Regions from separate parts of the Homo sapiens genome. Here region 2 is linked to region 1. Evidence: fine-mapped expression QTL. Tissue or cell type: whole blood. Region 1 holds a variant in brackets; the other region holds the start of a gene. All regions are shown on one strand. Distances are between the middles of the regions.

Region 1 (8,106 bases):
GACTTCCCAGCTTCTAGTTCTATAAGATATACATTTTGTTTCTTATAAATTACCCAGTTTCAGGTATTCTATTATAAGTAATGGAAAACAGATTAACATAATGATTTTTTCAAAGATGCAAATTACAGTAACTATAAGTGCTGGGAGATACTAAGTAAAGAATGCTAAAGAAGGGGGTAAAAAGAGTTCATGTGACATCGTTCACAGATAATCTTTTCTGAGTTAGGAGATTCTTCAGGAACTTCCTGTCTGATAAAGTAAGCTTTTCATTCCCTACAGTTTTAACAAAACTTCCTGTTAAGTTCTAGTTCTCAGCCAGGAATTGTCTACCTCGAAAAGACTTCCTTAATTTTTTATTGCATAATGTTTACATATTCCATATAGTACCTTAAAAATGTTAAGTTTCAAACTCTGAGACATGTTCCCCAAACCTCCAAATTTACTGAAGATTATGATGACAGCACCTTCCTGCTGGACCATCTCTCTATCTCTTCGTGCAGCTGGAATACAAAAACTCAAATGACAGTCCCAGTCCCAAAATAGTGATGGTCACATACCTGCTGGGAAAACTCACAGTACAGAAATAAGCAAACAACAAAATTAAAGAGTGCTCCAGGAGGAGCCTCAACCGCTGTTTATTGAATGGCACTAAATTAGAACTGTGTACTAATTCAACAAATATTTATTATGTAATACATGCCAAGCACTAAACTAGTGTTGGAAAATCAGTGGACAAAAACAATTGTCCACTAGAAGATTATGCCATTGGAAGGATTTCCTTTCAGAAAAGGAATAAAATTATAAAAACAAAATTAGATTGAAAATGAATATTCGTTTATAAAGACAAATTACAAATTTTAATTGAATGTTTGAGTCTCTGTTGTATTGGTGCTTACAATAGAAGGGACACTAAACAAAACAATAACAACAATACTCTCTCAAAATAGAAAATGTCTAGAGGACTATATTAAGGATGTGACATTTGAGCTGAAATCTGGAAAATGAGTAAGAATTCAATTATACAAAGGGGAAGGAAGCAAGAGTATGCTAGGTGAAGACAACCGCACATACAAAGGTCCTGGCCAGGAAGAAGCATGGCATTCACGAAGAACTGAGAGCAGAAGGGTATGGCTGGAGCTTATGGCGTAAAGGGTTTCTGCAGTCCTACATATGTGACCCCAAATCATCTTTAATTATCAACACTTTTGTCAATGGGACCCTCCCCCTAATGACCACAGCCATTGCCTGGAATGCTCCTATAAAGGGTCAGAGAGCAAGCTTGCCTCCCCTCAATGATTCTCCAGAAACTCAATCCACAAACGTTTAGTGAAAGCCTACAGTGCGTTGGGCACTGCACTAGGTATTGCAATGTAATGAAGGGTAACAATCTGCGTTCAGGAGAGGATGCACGGCCAAATGCATAGCTATCCAAGGTCATAACCAACATACCATATTGCATCCCATTCCTACCTTAGTGGCATTCCTGGATATGGAACGAAAACAGCTTGGGTGATGTCCTAGAAATAAGAGAATGAGGAAAGTCCACTAGGGTAGAGAGGACTTGTCTGATTAGAACAGATAAATGATATGGCTGCGAGTTGCGAGATGAATGTAGGGAAATAATACTTGAAAGACATGATAAAGTCTTCACCAGTTCTGAGAAAATGGCAACTCTGAAGAGGCCAGGGGCAATAATCCAAAGGTGAATTAGAACAATGGCTGAGGAGAGAGAGAGGACAGCCATGGCCATCAGCAGGTCTTGATGACTGATCAAGACAGAGGACAAAGGTTGGAGGAATTACAAAAACTCAACTTAAAGCAGGACACCTGGGAGAGTGGTGGGATGGTAACAGAAATCAGGAAGTTGGAAAGAGGAGTTGCTTAGAGGAAAACTTGGAAAACTTTTAAAAAATATAACAGTCTGAACTTAAAGTCAAATCCTGGCTAACTGAGTGATAATAGCAAACAGGCCAGCTGGAAATGGAAGACGAGGCCTGGGCAGAGGTCAAGACGAGAGGGCCCACATGTGGGAGTCTTTCAGGAGGAGTGGTGGTCTAAATAACAAGAATAGATGAGCTCGCGAGAAAAAGAGGGGAAAGCAGAGGGCCCTGGGGAACACCCACACAACAGAGGAGAGGAAAGCACAATAGACAAAGAGATAACTTGAAAAAGAACCAGCAGAGTTCACGAACATTGAAAGTACACTTTTTAAACATAAATCAAATCATGCAACTCCCCCACCAACCTATGGGCATGACCTGGCCCCTCCCACCTCTCTGACCTGTCTCCTCTCCTCTCCCCTCCCTCACAATGCAAGGGCCATGCTGGCCTTTTGTTGTCCCTCAAATACAAAAAGTTCATTTCCACTCCAGGGCCTTCGTGCTTTCTGATCCCTCTACTAGACTGCTCTCCAGGAGATCCCAGAGAGACTAATGACACACACACACAATTCTCTGCCATGTCATAGCCTTGTATTGTCCTAACCCATACTACCATCTGAAATTCTTATTTGTTTATTCGTTTACCTACTTACTTTCTGTCTCCTACTCCCAAGTGCATTCTGCGAGAGCAGGGACGTGAGACCTTGTTTCTCACTCTCTGCTCTTACAGTGCATGGCACTAAATGGGGACTTGAGAAAATAAACACCTTAGATTAAGCAAGAGCAAACTTAGTGACCTTCATAAGATCCGTTTTGATAAAAGTAACAGCATCAAGATATGGAGAGGAAAAGAAGGCAAGAGCTAGAGACACTTATTTAAAACATGCACACCCTCCTCAGGTGTAAGCAGGAGGAACTGCTGAGAAGGTAGTATAGCTAAATCACATCTTCTATAAGGGCTGCCTTTCTGGAATATGGAAATAAAACATTTTACCTGGATCACGTTATTTCTTTTACTGAGGCTTCTCCCAGAGAAAACTCTAACCCATTTCCATCATGCCTAAAATCCTTACTTAGATGGTAAAACATTTTAAAAACTCAAACAGAACAAAAATATCGGCTACTTCAAGTTCTTTATTAAAAATACAGGCTGCACACCACCCAAATTGTGGGAGCTGTCACTGAAATACAGGAAGTGAGGCAGCATCAGACTTTAAGCACACTTGGCACTTACTTACCCACGGACCTGAAACTCACACCCACTAAGAAATTTCTTCAAAGCTGGGTGCTAGGCTGACTCTTCCTGTGGTCTTCTGTAGTTGTATATTCA[C/T]CTTTGGGCCTTTCCCCAGAAGCTTATCATCTCAGTTGTGACAGTAGGAGGGGGCACCATAAAGTGGCATTGTATTGAGAGAAGAGGGAACTGTTTCTTTCAAAATGTGAAATGGGATGAAGCTAATGGAGGATTTGTAAAATGTTTGTAAGTCAAAGGTTTTGCTAAAGTCTGAGAAGCTTTTCCTCTCTGCTCCTGCCAGAACTACCAAGCAATCTCCTGCAGCAGCTAAGGAGCTTCAGACTTCCCAGGAACTGACATCTCGTGGCTGCTGGCCAGGCTGGGTAAAACAGTTACCATGGTCCTCTCTTTGCTCTATGGCTAGAACTGCTGCTTTGGAATTTGTTTGCCCCCTCAGAAGGAAAACAGGAGACAAGGCAAAGAGATAAAAGCAAGGCCATTCAGAGAGGATAGGAAAAGGTCAAGTTAAGTTAGTAGAAAACAAAAGCCAGCAAAGAAAACCAACTTCAGGGAGCACAGATTAACTGACAATGGCAGAAACACCCCAGCAGGTGGCAATCCTCTGAGATGCACATGCTGCTGTGTTTTAAATAAAGACACAAGTAAAGTTAATATAATTCGCTAAAAACAAATTTGCACAAAGTAAACACGTGATCTAGAAGTTGCATTCAGGCAAAAGCCCTGCCCGATTCCATTGGCTAAGCTAGACTTAGCTGTACTAACCTGTTTTGAAAGACACCCTTACCTACCACCCTCTGACACCTGAGCTAATGAAAATTTCTATTATTTTGAGCTGGGAAGAACTGAATGGAGCAAATGACCATCAATTAATAGGTCTGGCTTCTTGTGAGCAAATGAGCTTCAGAAGGTCAGGGCTTGCCTAGACATAGTTACCAGCAGCATCCTCTAGTGAGATAAAAGAAAAGAGAGACCCTTTAATTTAAGGTCCATGAAGGAGCCCCATTCATGTCAGAAAGCTCAAAGGCAGTTGCAGGACAGGAAAGGATAAAATGGTGCCTTTGAGTACTTGGTCAATGAGGAAATGGAGATGTGGCAGAGCAGTGGGGAAGGTCGTTACCAGTGAAGGTCGGAAAACCCCAGGCTTATTGTGGGATCTGCCACTAACAAATTTTCTGAGTCAAAAAAAATTATTCTTATGACTTCTAATAGAGCATTTTAAAATCCAGAGTGTCAAACCAGCTGAGTTAACTTAGTCAAGCCAGTCAATCTCCCTCTTGGAGACTAATCTCCTCATCAGCAAAGTGAGGGTGCCCAGGCAAAGGTCCCCAAGATGCCCTCATAGACTAATATTTCGAGTTGATGGGCATGAGGCCAGTCATAGGTAGCCCACTGGGGGATGGAGGGCCACCAAGAGAGAAGGGCAGTGTCTGGAGGACAGGATTTCCTTCCACAGGACCCAAAAGCCACAGGGAATCTGCAGGGATCCGGAAGAAGGCCCCTGCTGGGTGACCCCAGAACAAAGCCACCAAGTCACTTACTACCTCAATAAGAAGCTGCTTCCCTGAGCTGGGGAAGAGTCCATCCAGACAACTTGGGCCCTGTCCTCCGGCCCTCCCTGCAGAAGGCTGGGACCAAGGGGAGCATGCTCCACCAAGTATTCATGGAAGCTATACCAACATCCAGAAATTAGAAAAGGCTGAATAGGATAGAGTTTCCCCCACTACCTCTAGACATCAGATTATACCTTCAACACCCACAATGAGCCCAGCAGCAACCAACATTCTTGGGACCAAACACAGCAGGAGACAGTGACTCAGAATAAAAGAATAATATAAACATAAAATGCTAAGGGAATAGCGAAGTATCTTAGATCCAGCTGGAAACAAGCTACTGAAGCAAAAAACTCCCACTGCCCAAATGGTTATACAATTTGCAGCCTCCAGAGAAAAAAGTGATTACACTCTTCTCAGTCAGTGGCTATGATTAACATGTCTGCACAGCACCTCAGAAGGGTGGAAGGGAGCAAGAGCCCACACACACAGTCTCACACATGCACCCTCTGCAGATGTTAAAAAAAATCTCCACGGATTAGTCAAATTCTGACTAATAGATGCTCATATTAGTCAGAATTTGAGAAATGGGAGAAATAAAGGACACTTCTAACCCTTCACCAACTTAATCAACATACAAAATTTAACATCCCTCCTTTCTTTGCACAATGAAAATGAGAACATAATCCCCAGCTACATAATTATCAGTTATTAAAGCTAAAGAAATAGACATTAAATATTTCTGAAAGTTGCTGAATAAAATGTCAACTATTAGATCTCATTTGCAAAGCAATCCACTAAAATTTAAAATATGTATGCCCTTCATCCAGCAATTCTACTCCTAGGAATCTATCCCATAGAGATGAAAGTATCAACATATAAGGACATATGGACAGGATGTCTGGTGAATAATTGTTCATGATTGCCAAGAACTGAAACAAAGTGAATGGCCATCAATAGGGAATGAGCTTGACCCATACCTATTCATTAATTAGAGTGAGTTTGAGCTATGTCTGATGGCTTATAGGAGTTTATACAAAGTATCACTGAGTTGGAAAAGATACAGAAGTCCACATAATATGATCCTTCTACTAAAGCTTGTATATGTATATATGAATACAGAAGAACATGAAAATGTTTGCACTAAGTCCATGGTTCTCAATCTTTAGCACACAGCAGAATCGCTTGAAAGTTTTATTAAAACACAGATTGCTGGGCCCCATCCACAGAGTGTCTGATTCAGTAGGTCCAGCATGAGGTCTGAGAATTTGCATTTCTGGCAAGTTCCTAGGGATGCTGATGCTGCTAAGAACCCCTGCAGGAGATGACTCTAAGGGTTAGCTCAGAGTACAGGAACGGGAATTATAAAATGGGGGTGAGGGGAAATGGGGTCCTGTCCATTATAATAAAAACAGCATTCCCGTATAATTCCTTATGAAATATCATGAGTGTGTGTGTGTGTGTGTGTGTGTACACATTTGCCAAACAAATTTTAGTGTTTACCAAAATACTAATAAAGTTCTCTAAAAAGGAGAATTTCACTGGGCACAGTGGCTCATGCCAATAATCTCATCACTTTAGGAGTCCAAGGTGGGTGGATCTCTTGAGCCCAGAAGTTTGAGACCAGCCTGGGCAACATGGCAAGACCCCATCTCTACAAAAAATACAAAAATTAGCCAGGTGTGGTGGCTCATGCCTCTAGTCCCAGCTACTCTGGGAGCTGAGGCAGGAGGATTGCTTGAACCCAGGAGGTGGAGGCTGCAGTGAGCCAAGATCGCACTACACTCCCCAGCCTGGATGACACGGCGAGAATTTGTCTCAAAAAAAAAAGGTGGAACTTCAACTGATCTTCACTTTCTTTTTAATAATTTTACTTACTATTATATTCTTTATAATAAGCAAGTGTTATTTAATCATTTTAAATAAAGCCATTTTAATTGAGGAAAAATGGAAAAATCTTCGGAACCAACAATTTCTCAAGCAAGACTTTTCTGTTTTATTCACAGCACTAAACTGATATTTCAGAAAGACTAGCATTAATTATACTTTACAAACAGCTTTTGTTTTTGTTGAGATAGGGTATTGCTCTCTCACCCAGGCTGGAGTGCAGTGGTGTGATTACAGCTCACTGCAGCCTTGAACTCCTTGGCTCAAGTGATCCTCCCACCTCAGCCTCCCAAGTAGCTGGGACTATAGGCTTGAGCCACCACACGTGGCTTTTTTTTTTTTTTTTTTTTTTTTTTGTAAAGACAGAGTCTTACAATGTTGACCAGGCTGATCTAGGGAGGACTAAGCAGCCTCTCAAAGTGCTGACATTACAGGTATATGCCACCACACACAGCCAATTATACTTTATACAAAAATAAAATATAATTAATGTAAAAAAAGGAGCTCTTGGATAAATAAGTAGAATAGGTATTTGTTTTATAATTCTCCTTGATTTACAAAATGTAGAGAAAACTCAATATAAAATGTAATCAAAAAGCATTCATTAGCAAAAACACAAATTGGCTTGTAAATGCAAAATCTCTTCCTCTCTCAAAGTTTAATTAAATGCCCAGTAAGCAAAATCTCTCCTCTTAAGCTGTCCTTGCATCGTTTCCTATCTCTTTTTACACACAAACTAGGAAAAAGAAGACTAAGAGCAATAATCTAAAAATAAAATTATCTACTTTCTCACGGCAACGTGAAATCTTAAAATAATTAATTTAAAAATAAAACCAAAATAAAAATATCTTTATAATTTCCAGTACAGAACTTTTAAGCTCCCAAGTGGTGTTAACTGAAGAATTTTCAGCCAGAAAAATAAACACCTTAGGTTCCACTGATTCTAACTTACCCTTTTCCAGGCTTTTGCACTTCTCATTAGCTTCACCACCACAATTCTTTCCAGCTTAAAATACACCTCCTAATACTATTGTACCATTCAGTCTAAAAACTAAGCCTAGACTTCAAACCAGACTGCAGGCCTCTGGTGTTTTTTTTTTTTGTTTTTTCTTTTTCTCCTTGGAATAAACAGACTAGCCTTCCAGTGCTGCTCCTTCAGTTTCTTTTCAAGCACGAATGCAGGAAGCTGCTTAGAGACTAAAAATTGGATTTGCAATGCTCATATATATCCCTAGGTTCCACAAAGTGATATTATAAAGCTCTTGGCTGCCAGTCTTGCCAATTCCTGCTTCTTCTCTGATCTTAGTAGTGTTTCTCTTTTTCTGCAACTGCAACTCAGGGAACTGCCATGGATTCTTTTAAAAATTAGACTAAAGCTGACCATGGTGGCATGTGCCTGTAGTCCCAGCTACTGGGGAGGCTAAGGCAGGAGGCTTGCTAGGGCCCAGGTGGTCGAGGGTGCAGTGAGCTAAGATCATGCCAGTGCACTCCAGCCTGGGCAACAGTGAGGCCCCATCTCAAAATAAATTTAAAAAAA
Region 2 (8,093 bases), 68 kb after region 1:
TCTCATTAAAAAATGATGTCAGATCTCATTATCTTGGTTATCCAGGAGAAGAAGTCCAGGAGCAATAATGTTACAAATAAGCAAATTACTATTGTGCCTGAGATCAAATTTCAAGGGAAAAATGGAAGTCAATTAAGAAGATGCACTATCACATTAAAAAAATAAGTTACATGACTTATTTTGCCAGTCAAATGTCTTTAATTTTTTTTTTTTTTTGAGACAGAGTCTTTTTCTGTCACCCAGACTGGAAATGTGGTGGCACCATCTCAGCTCACTGCAGCCTCTACTTCCCCAACTCAAGCTATCCTCCCCACTCTGCCTCTCAAGTAGCTGGGACTATAGGCACACACCACACACCACCATGCCTGGCTAGTTTTTGTATTTTTTTTGTAGAGACAGGGTTTTGCCATGTTGCCCAGGCTGGTCTTGAACTCCTGGGCTCAAGCAATCCTCCCACTTCAGCCTCTCAAAGTGTTGGGGTTATGTGCATGAGCCACCACCCCCACCCTGGCCAGCCAAATGTCTTAATGTGGAGTGTGCAAAAGTCTACTCCGAAAATGCAACAGACCCTAAAAACTCTAAAGCCAGAAAAGTGTCACCTTCAACACGGAATCCAAAGATCAGAGAATCAAAGCAAAGAGCAGTGCTGGGCACATAGTAAGACTTCAACAAATATTAGTTGAATGAATGTAAATGAAGAACATGTTCATAGAAAGAGAGCCCCATAATAGAGATTGTCAAAATGGCAAAATAGTAGAGTGACACTGCCTTGGGCTTCCGAGAACTTCCAATACCATGATAATAACAAAAGAACTAAGGGTCACAGAGACTGGACAAAATGGCAGAGTATCATACAAATGGAGCAAAATGCTCTGTGATACAGGACCTGACCTACACTTCTTAAGCAAGAAAAATATCTCAAAGCCCAGCTTTGCCTAAGTAGAGATGTGGACTCAAGTCTGACAGGGTGGCATATTTACAGCACAACTTTAGCATGGCAGAATTCCCTGAATTTGGTGCACTTCAAATGTAACACTGTTTTTACATCCTCAGTAGGAGTTGCCCAGGTTGACCCACCTCTTCATAACAAATCTTATTTAAGGTTATGGGCGGGGGCCGGTGGGGGGATCCCAGAGCTACTCTGCTTCACTAAAAGCAACATAAATACAAATGCAATTACACAAAACCTACACAAACCAGATCTGTCATATCTGATTAGTAAATAAAAGCATAATAAAATTATAGTCAGCCTAGGTAATTTAGGCTCTGTTCAGTACCATCCTAGCCATGCCCAAGTGGTGAGGCTTTTCCAACATTTATATCATGAATCTTTTTTTCTTGGAATTCAGTCCTTGGTCATAAACTGGCAGGACTTGTTGGAGCTTGGGTACCAATATAGTGGTGTACAGAATGTTTAATATAGAAGTAATAGTATATGCTGCAATTTGTTTTAATACCTACTTAGAACACATAGTCTTTTCTCACGGGGCATACTAAAGGAGGTCATGTATCAGAGCTCACCTGAAATTCCTGCCCAATTTAAGTCTTAGCCACAAGTGTAGTTTCTTATAAGAACACAATAAGAAAACATTCCAAACTCTTCTGCAGTACTCACATAATTAAAAAAAAAAAGTATGAAACCCACCCAAGTGAGGCTTCTGAGACATTTCATAGAAACTTAGTTATTAACTACTATTTTTCTTCTTTACCTTTAAGTGTTTATAAACTGCTTAAAGGACAGTTGGGTACTTCAGAGGAAAGTCTAATGACACGCCTGCTATACAACCTGTTCTTAGTTGGCCAGATTGTGTGGTTTTGATAAGGAAAAAAAAAAAGTCAAAAGCAGGACAAACACTGATTCTCTGTTCTCCATTCTCCCATTACCCAAGACATTCATCTGAGTCACACACTCTATAGCTAGCTCTGAGCCTCAGTTTCCCTAACCATTAGCTATAAGATCTGATGCTAGCCAAATTCCTATTTGATCAAAGTTAATCAGCCCAATAATCACATATAGAGTCCACATCAGAACATTACATTGAAATACTATGTTGTATTAAAAATTCCAAAGGGTTTTGCCATATTCATCTCTTTTCTGCAAATACTCCAAAGGGGTTACTTTGGCTATTAATCAAGATTAGGCAAATACCCATGTGCTTTAGGAATGTGTAACTAAAAACCCAGGACAGATCTAGAGAAACCTTCCCAGGTTTCCCAGAAGTCATCACTACGCTTGGATTGTCATGTACAAAGTAGATGCCACAGAACCTAACAAGGGTAGGTCCTTGATTTGTTTTTGCAGTGAAAACAGGATTTCACTTACACCTGACAGCTTCAGGGCCTAGGAACACAAGATAACAACGCTTCAGAAAGCCAGGGGCCCCATGGAACCCCAAATGATCAGTTCTTTATAAACGAAAATTAAAGATCTTACTTTCTTTGGATTTTGCCCAATTGGTGTGGTCCGTGGTGAACCTCTATAACTCCTGGTGTGAGGAGATGTGTGGATACCCAGGCAGGGGTCAAGGCGGGAGAAGCCGCACAAACACAGATGTTGCCACTGTTCCTCGGCCCACCCAGCCAACCAATGCGGGGACGCTGTGGGCCTATAGAGATGGATTCTTTCTTAGAAATCTAACTGGTCTCTGGGAAACCAAAGCTGGGTATCCAGGGCCGCCTGAGCACCCAGTTTCCATACAGCCCTCGACCCAAATGGTGCTTTCTTGGCCAAACACCGGCCTGTCATTCGGAAAACCTAAGCACGGGAAGGCTGGGGCACCACCACATACACCCCGGGTATTTAAGGGGAAACAAATCCATAAAATAAGCGTAAGGAGTCCCACATAATTCTGACCACCTTTCCCAACCAAGGTAACCATAAATGCCTTTTGAAACACAGCAGATGCTTCCACACGAGTAAGTGGTAGTGCGTGTGTCCTGAGCTTGCGTTCCGTCTGCATTCTGCGGTCCTGGCCCTGCCAAGCACCCTCAGTCCCGGAGCTGAAGCATGGATGGGAAGGGCGGACACCAACTCTCGACGTTCTCCCTTCTCCACCGCAGGAGTGCTGTTTATTTCCCTGTCTCCCGAAGGACACTGGCGGGGCTTTCACCCGCCCAGCCCCCGGCTCTCAGTGCGCCCGAGCGACCCCGCGCTCCGCAGCTGCCGCCGCCGCACGAGGCTGCGCCGCCCTCTCCACTTGTTGCCGCTCCCGAGGGAGCGGGAGGCGGCGCCCAGCCCTCGCGCCGCAGCGCCTGCAGCGGTTCCCCGGTCACCTCTGCTGACCCTCGCATCCCTGGGGACCCTGGAGAAAGTGGCCCTGCGGATGCGAACTCAGGTGGACAAACTTTTCCGCCCAGAGCTGCAGGGAAACGCAGACGATGGAGTCCCAAAGAGCATTTACCTGGAGCGATGGCCCCGCAGCCTCCAGAACCCAGGCGAGGCTCTGCCCCCGCGCCCTGCCTGAGGGCGCCTCGGAACGCGCCCCCAGCCAGCCGCCGCCCGGAGTCCGGAAGGCTCTCCCCGGCGATGCCAACGCCTGGCGGCGGCCGGGCTGAAGCCAAGGTTTAGGGGGTGGAGCCGCGGCCGCGCGCCCGGGCCCGGCTGGCTGCGCCAGCAGCGGGTGCCGCCCCCGCTCCCCCCGCTCCCCCCGCGCCTCCCCGCTGCCACTGGATCCCCGCCTGCCCACCTCCCGGCCCGGCTCGCGGCGGCCGCATCACATGGCGAGGCCCGCCCGCCGGCCGCGCCCGACACCGGCTCCAGGAGGAAACCTGAAGCTGCCCCTACCGCGCTGTCTCCGCCAGCCCCCTCCCGCTGCGGGGCTGCGGCCGTTGGCCTCCGGAGATCGGAGGCGCGGAGGCTGGCGCGGACCTGGCGGGCCACAGGAGTGCCAGTTGCGCCCCGGGCGCCCCCACGCCTTGGCGCCTCCCGAGGGAGGCGCTGGGCTGCCCGCTCGCGAAAGGAGTTGTGCCAGGCCCGAGGGAGGCTCAGGCTGTTCCCAGCCAAAAGCCACCACACCCGTGACATAATACGGCCCGGGTCTATTACAATAGGAAATATTATTTTTAAAAACAGCATTTGCCCTCTTATTTGAAGCTCATGTTCCCTGGCCGAGAGCTTTGCAAGCTGCGATTCCCTTCACGTTTATGCACGCAAGTGGCTGCAAGTCTTAATTCAAAAACGTATGAAAACCATAACCACTTTTACAATGAACAGCAATGTGAAGGGACTTCCTTATCCTCCAAAGCAGTTTTCCTCTTAGATGTGATGACAGCCCCAAGAGCAGAAGCCAAGCCTCTTCATCAGCCAGGCTCTCATATACAGACTTAAGACCATTATTGCAGCTTTAAAGGTAAAATTGCCCATCTGAGACTGCTGTGGCAGTAAGTGTTATAGTTAAGACTATTTGTAAGGAAATTAGTATTGAAATATAAAGTTTCTAATAAAATTTATAAAATCACCTTGAGTCTCTGCTTTGTTTTTCCTTTGAAGACTGGCTACGCACAGAACCATAACAAAGGTGTGGCCCGAGGAAGCTGGCCACCAAGATCCCAAGCCAGAATGGAGCCCAGCTCCCAGGCTGCCACCACCACTTCTCCTGGGCCTGGGCCTTTTCTGTCTCCCTTCCAGCCGCCACCTTCCCCAGCCCACCTTGCTGATACGAATGCTGAGAAAGGCTGAGATTAGCAAGAGAAAGACCATCGTGTGTCTGAATGCCTTAGCCCTGTTCCAAGGCAAAGGCTGCAATTCCGCCTTGGGAAAGGGACCCCAACACTGGCATTGCACTCCTGACCTGGGCTGTCATCCCAGCTGATTCCACCCTCAGCCCCACAGAGCTGTGAACTCAAGGCCTGGCCTCAGGCGCTGCCACAAAAAAAAAAAAAGAAAAAAAAAATATATATATATATCCTGCCCAGTGTCAAGGTACACAAGATAAAAATAAAAGCAATAATATTCTTTTCAAAAATAGAAAAAATTTTGAGCAGGGCGTGGTGGCTCACACCTGTAATCCCAGCACTTTGGGAGGCTGAGGCGGGTGGATCACCTGAGGTCAGGAGCTCGAGACCAGCCTGGACAACATGGTGAAACCCCGTCTCCACAAAAACACACAATTTAGCTGGGTGTGTTGGTGCGTGCCTGTAATCCCAGCTACTCGAGAGGCTGAGGCAGGAGAATCACTTGAACTGAAGATTAACTGAATCAACATGCCAGACAAAAATGGTTTCCAAACTCTGGTGAATAAACATGGTGATGTGTTAGAAGCCTTTGTTGTTATTGTCCTTTTTCATATCACTAGTACTGAAGCCCTCTTTTTCTTTTTTTTTTTTTTTTAATTCTGGCAGGTATGTATCTTTTTTTAAAAAACAAAAAAATGTGGAAAGAGGAACAAATATTATAAGAAGTTACCCCCAAGCCCCTTCCCCACTAAAAAGAAACCAGCAAAACTAGTAATTGTGAAACTCTCACCACCCAAGGACATACAATGCTAGCTGCAGTTTTCTTGCCTGCTCTCAAGCCCTGAGCTTGATCAATATTTAAATACGTACTTGGCTTTCAACTTCTCTAGGTTCAAATATTAAGCAAAGTGTTTGCTTCAGCAACCTTAAAAGAAGCCGTGACTATCTGAGGCAGGAAGCTATCAGTTGTGTAAATAACCCTTTGCACCTGATTGATTTCACTGCTCCAGATATAGGTCACTCAGGACATTGCTGGCACTAAGCTTGGCTGGGACAGCATTTGTTTTGAATTCAAAGACTATATATTCTCTACAGACAAGGGACATTCAGCCAGCAAGAAACCAGGCTGGCCATTCAGTTAGGGAAATTCTAACTGCCTAGTGAGTATTATGCCAATGTCCTAGCTCAGCTCTGTCTTTTCTAGAGATTCAATCCCCATTCATCCTTACATACTTCACTCCAGATAGACCTCCTCCATAAATCCTTACATTGTCCTGGTTTCTGCTACCCTCTGAATTTTGGCAAAGCATAATGGCCTTACTACACAGTGTAGCACCTGATTATATTAACTGTCACATGTTGGACAACTGTAGGCTCTTATCCTCCCTTCAACTTGAAATTCAAGGACAAAACCTGTTCCTTACCCCTGTAATCTTCACAGTCCCAACACAGGGCATTTCTGGAGTATTTAGTATTTGTTTTTTAATTGAACTATCACATCCATTATGCAAGAAGAAAAATGTCACCATTTTCAAACTTTAATGAATTATAACCACTGCTAATTATATTATCTATTTAATTATTTCCTGGCCTTCATTATATTTCCTTTGTCAATAATTCTCAAAAATTGGATAATTGTAAATCTGATGTTTAGCCACGTGAGTTAGGGAATTACTAGTGTTTCTTAAGTGAAAGCAAGATACTAGAAAATGGTAGATTTAATAGGAGGTGAACAAACTCTGGAATACAAATAGGATGATCTTGGGAAGATACAACCTTTCTAAGCCTCCATTTCCTCATCTGTATAATGGGCATAAGAACAGCATATACTATCATTGTGAGGATTACGTGACTGAAAGTGATTACAGGACACATAATAAGGATGTGGAAAATAGTGGCAGTTAATCTTTTAGTGTATGGTTGTATTAGGAGAACACTTCAGAGCTTTGAGATAATTAATAGGGCATGGCAGACCCCAAGACAAGAAACTATTTCTGGATTATAAACTTGGTTGTCCAGCCTAGGAAGGTCGGAGAACACAGAGAAAAGAGGCCAACATTATTAAAACCAGGGGACAGATCTCATGGGGAAATCCACACAGTAGTTCTCATTCTGGCTACACATTAGCATCACCTGGGAAGCTTTAAAACAATCTTGATTCCCAGAACGCCCACCTGATCAATCATTCGGAATCTCCAGAAAATTGGGCCCATGTTATTGGTCGTTTTTTGAAAGCTCTCCAGGTGATTCCAATGTTCAACCAAAGTTGGGAACCACTGGACTAAAGGAACTGAATGTATTGACACTGGAGGAGGGTGAGGATCGCACTCAATTATATGTGGTTAAGGGGAATCAGCTCTTCCATTTCCAATGTTAAACCATCAGGTTTAAATTGCAGGTGAGCAGGGCTTCCGTGTAATCTGCATATGAGTCACTTGGGGATCTTGTTAAAATGCAAATTCTGACTTAGTAGCAGATGGAGTCTGATATTCTTCATTTCTGATAAGTTTGAGTTGGGGCTGAGGCTACTGGTCTGTGGACCATACTCTGAGGAGCGAAATAATAGATTTAGAGAGAAATATTCAGATTTGTTACAGGAGAAGTCTTAACATCTCTGAATATTTTTAATCAACTGATATTTATTGAGCACCAACTATGCAAAAAATTAATATTTTGCAATCTTTGAAGAAAATAATAGGTTGTTTTTAGCCAGTTTTCAGTATGAGGTCTTCCCTAAAGGGGCAACTTACCTGTCAGGTATAGCAAGCTCAGTGCCTAGGGTCTATAATACTTATAGGGGCCAAAAAATATTTTAATTTCTTTTAAAATCAGAAGAGAAAAATGAACTTTTAGGTCAAAGAAAATGTTTTAGCATATAATATTAATATATTTGTATCTATAACAATGCAATAGTGAAATATAATTTTTCTTTTTATCTACATTTTTATTTTTCTGGAGGAAGGTGCGTATGAAGGCAAAAGTGCCCAGATCCTACAAAAGTCATAATGCAGCTATGTTCTTGAAGTCCATATTAGTCTCAGGTATTTTTAGGAAAGCACATGGAACTCATTGTGGCTGATATTTTCATGTTGGTATTTACATGAGCAAAAGGAAGATATTGGGGAAATTATAAATACGCCTTTTGAGTGGAGCCAGCCCAATAATTATGAAGAGTTCAACACTTTCCACGTGTGCAATTTGGAAACACTGGGGATGCTCCATTGACAAAACATTGTTTCTTTTCAGCTGATTCCTTAGGGTCTAAAATTCTATCACTAGAGATTTACTCCACCTCCAGAGCCAGTCTCTAGAGATTCACATTATTGAGACCCTTCCTTTGCATATTGACCTTTTTTTTTTTTTTTTGAGACAGGGTCTCACTCTGTCACTCAGGCTGGAATAAAGTGGTGCAGCTGCAC

The links. PIP is the estimated chance that this variant, and not a neighbour inherited with it, causes the effect.
Region 2: it holds the start of ARHGEF28, and the variant in region 1 is fine-mapped to the expression of ARHGEF28 in whole blood (TOPMed, PIP above 0.99).

What each region holds. Positions count from the first base shown.
Region 1 is chr5:73,689,345-73,697,450 of GRCh38, reverse strand. All of the region lies in intron 2 of ARHGEF28 (Rho guanine nucleotide exchange factor 28), which reads right to left. Among named protein-coding and RNA genes, the nearest start is that of ARHGEF28, 67 kb to the right of the region's middle. RefSeq lists an enhancer at 3,345-3,969. The variant C/T (reference allele first, on the strand shown) is at 3,211.
Region 2 is chr5:73,621,631-73,629,723 of GRCh38, reverse strand. ARHGEF28 (Rho guanine nucleotide exchange factor 28) reads right to left here and starts at 3,528. Exons shown (of 36, transcript NM_001177693.2): 1 at 3,402-3,528. RefSeq lists a silencer at 3,730-3,819.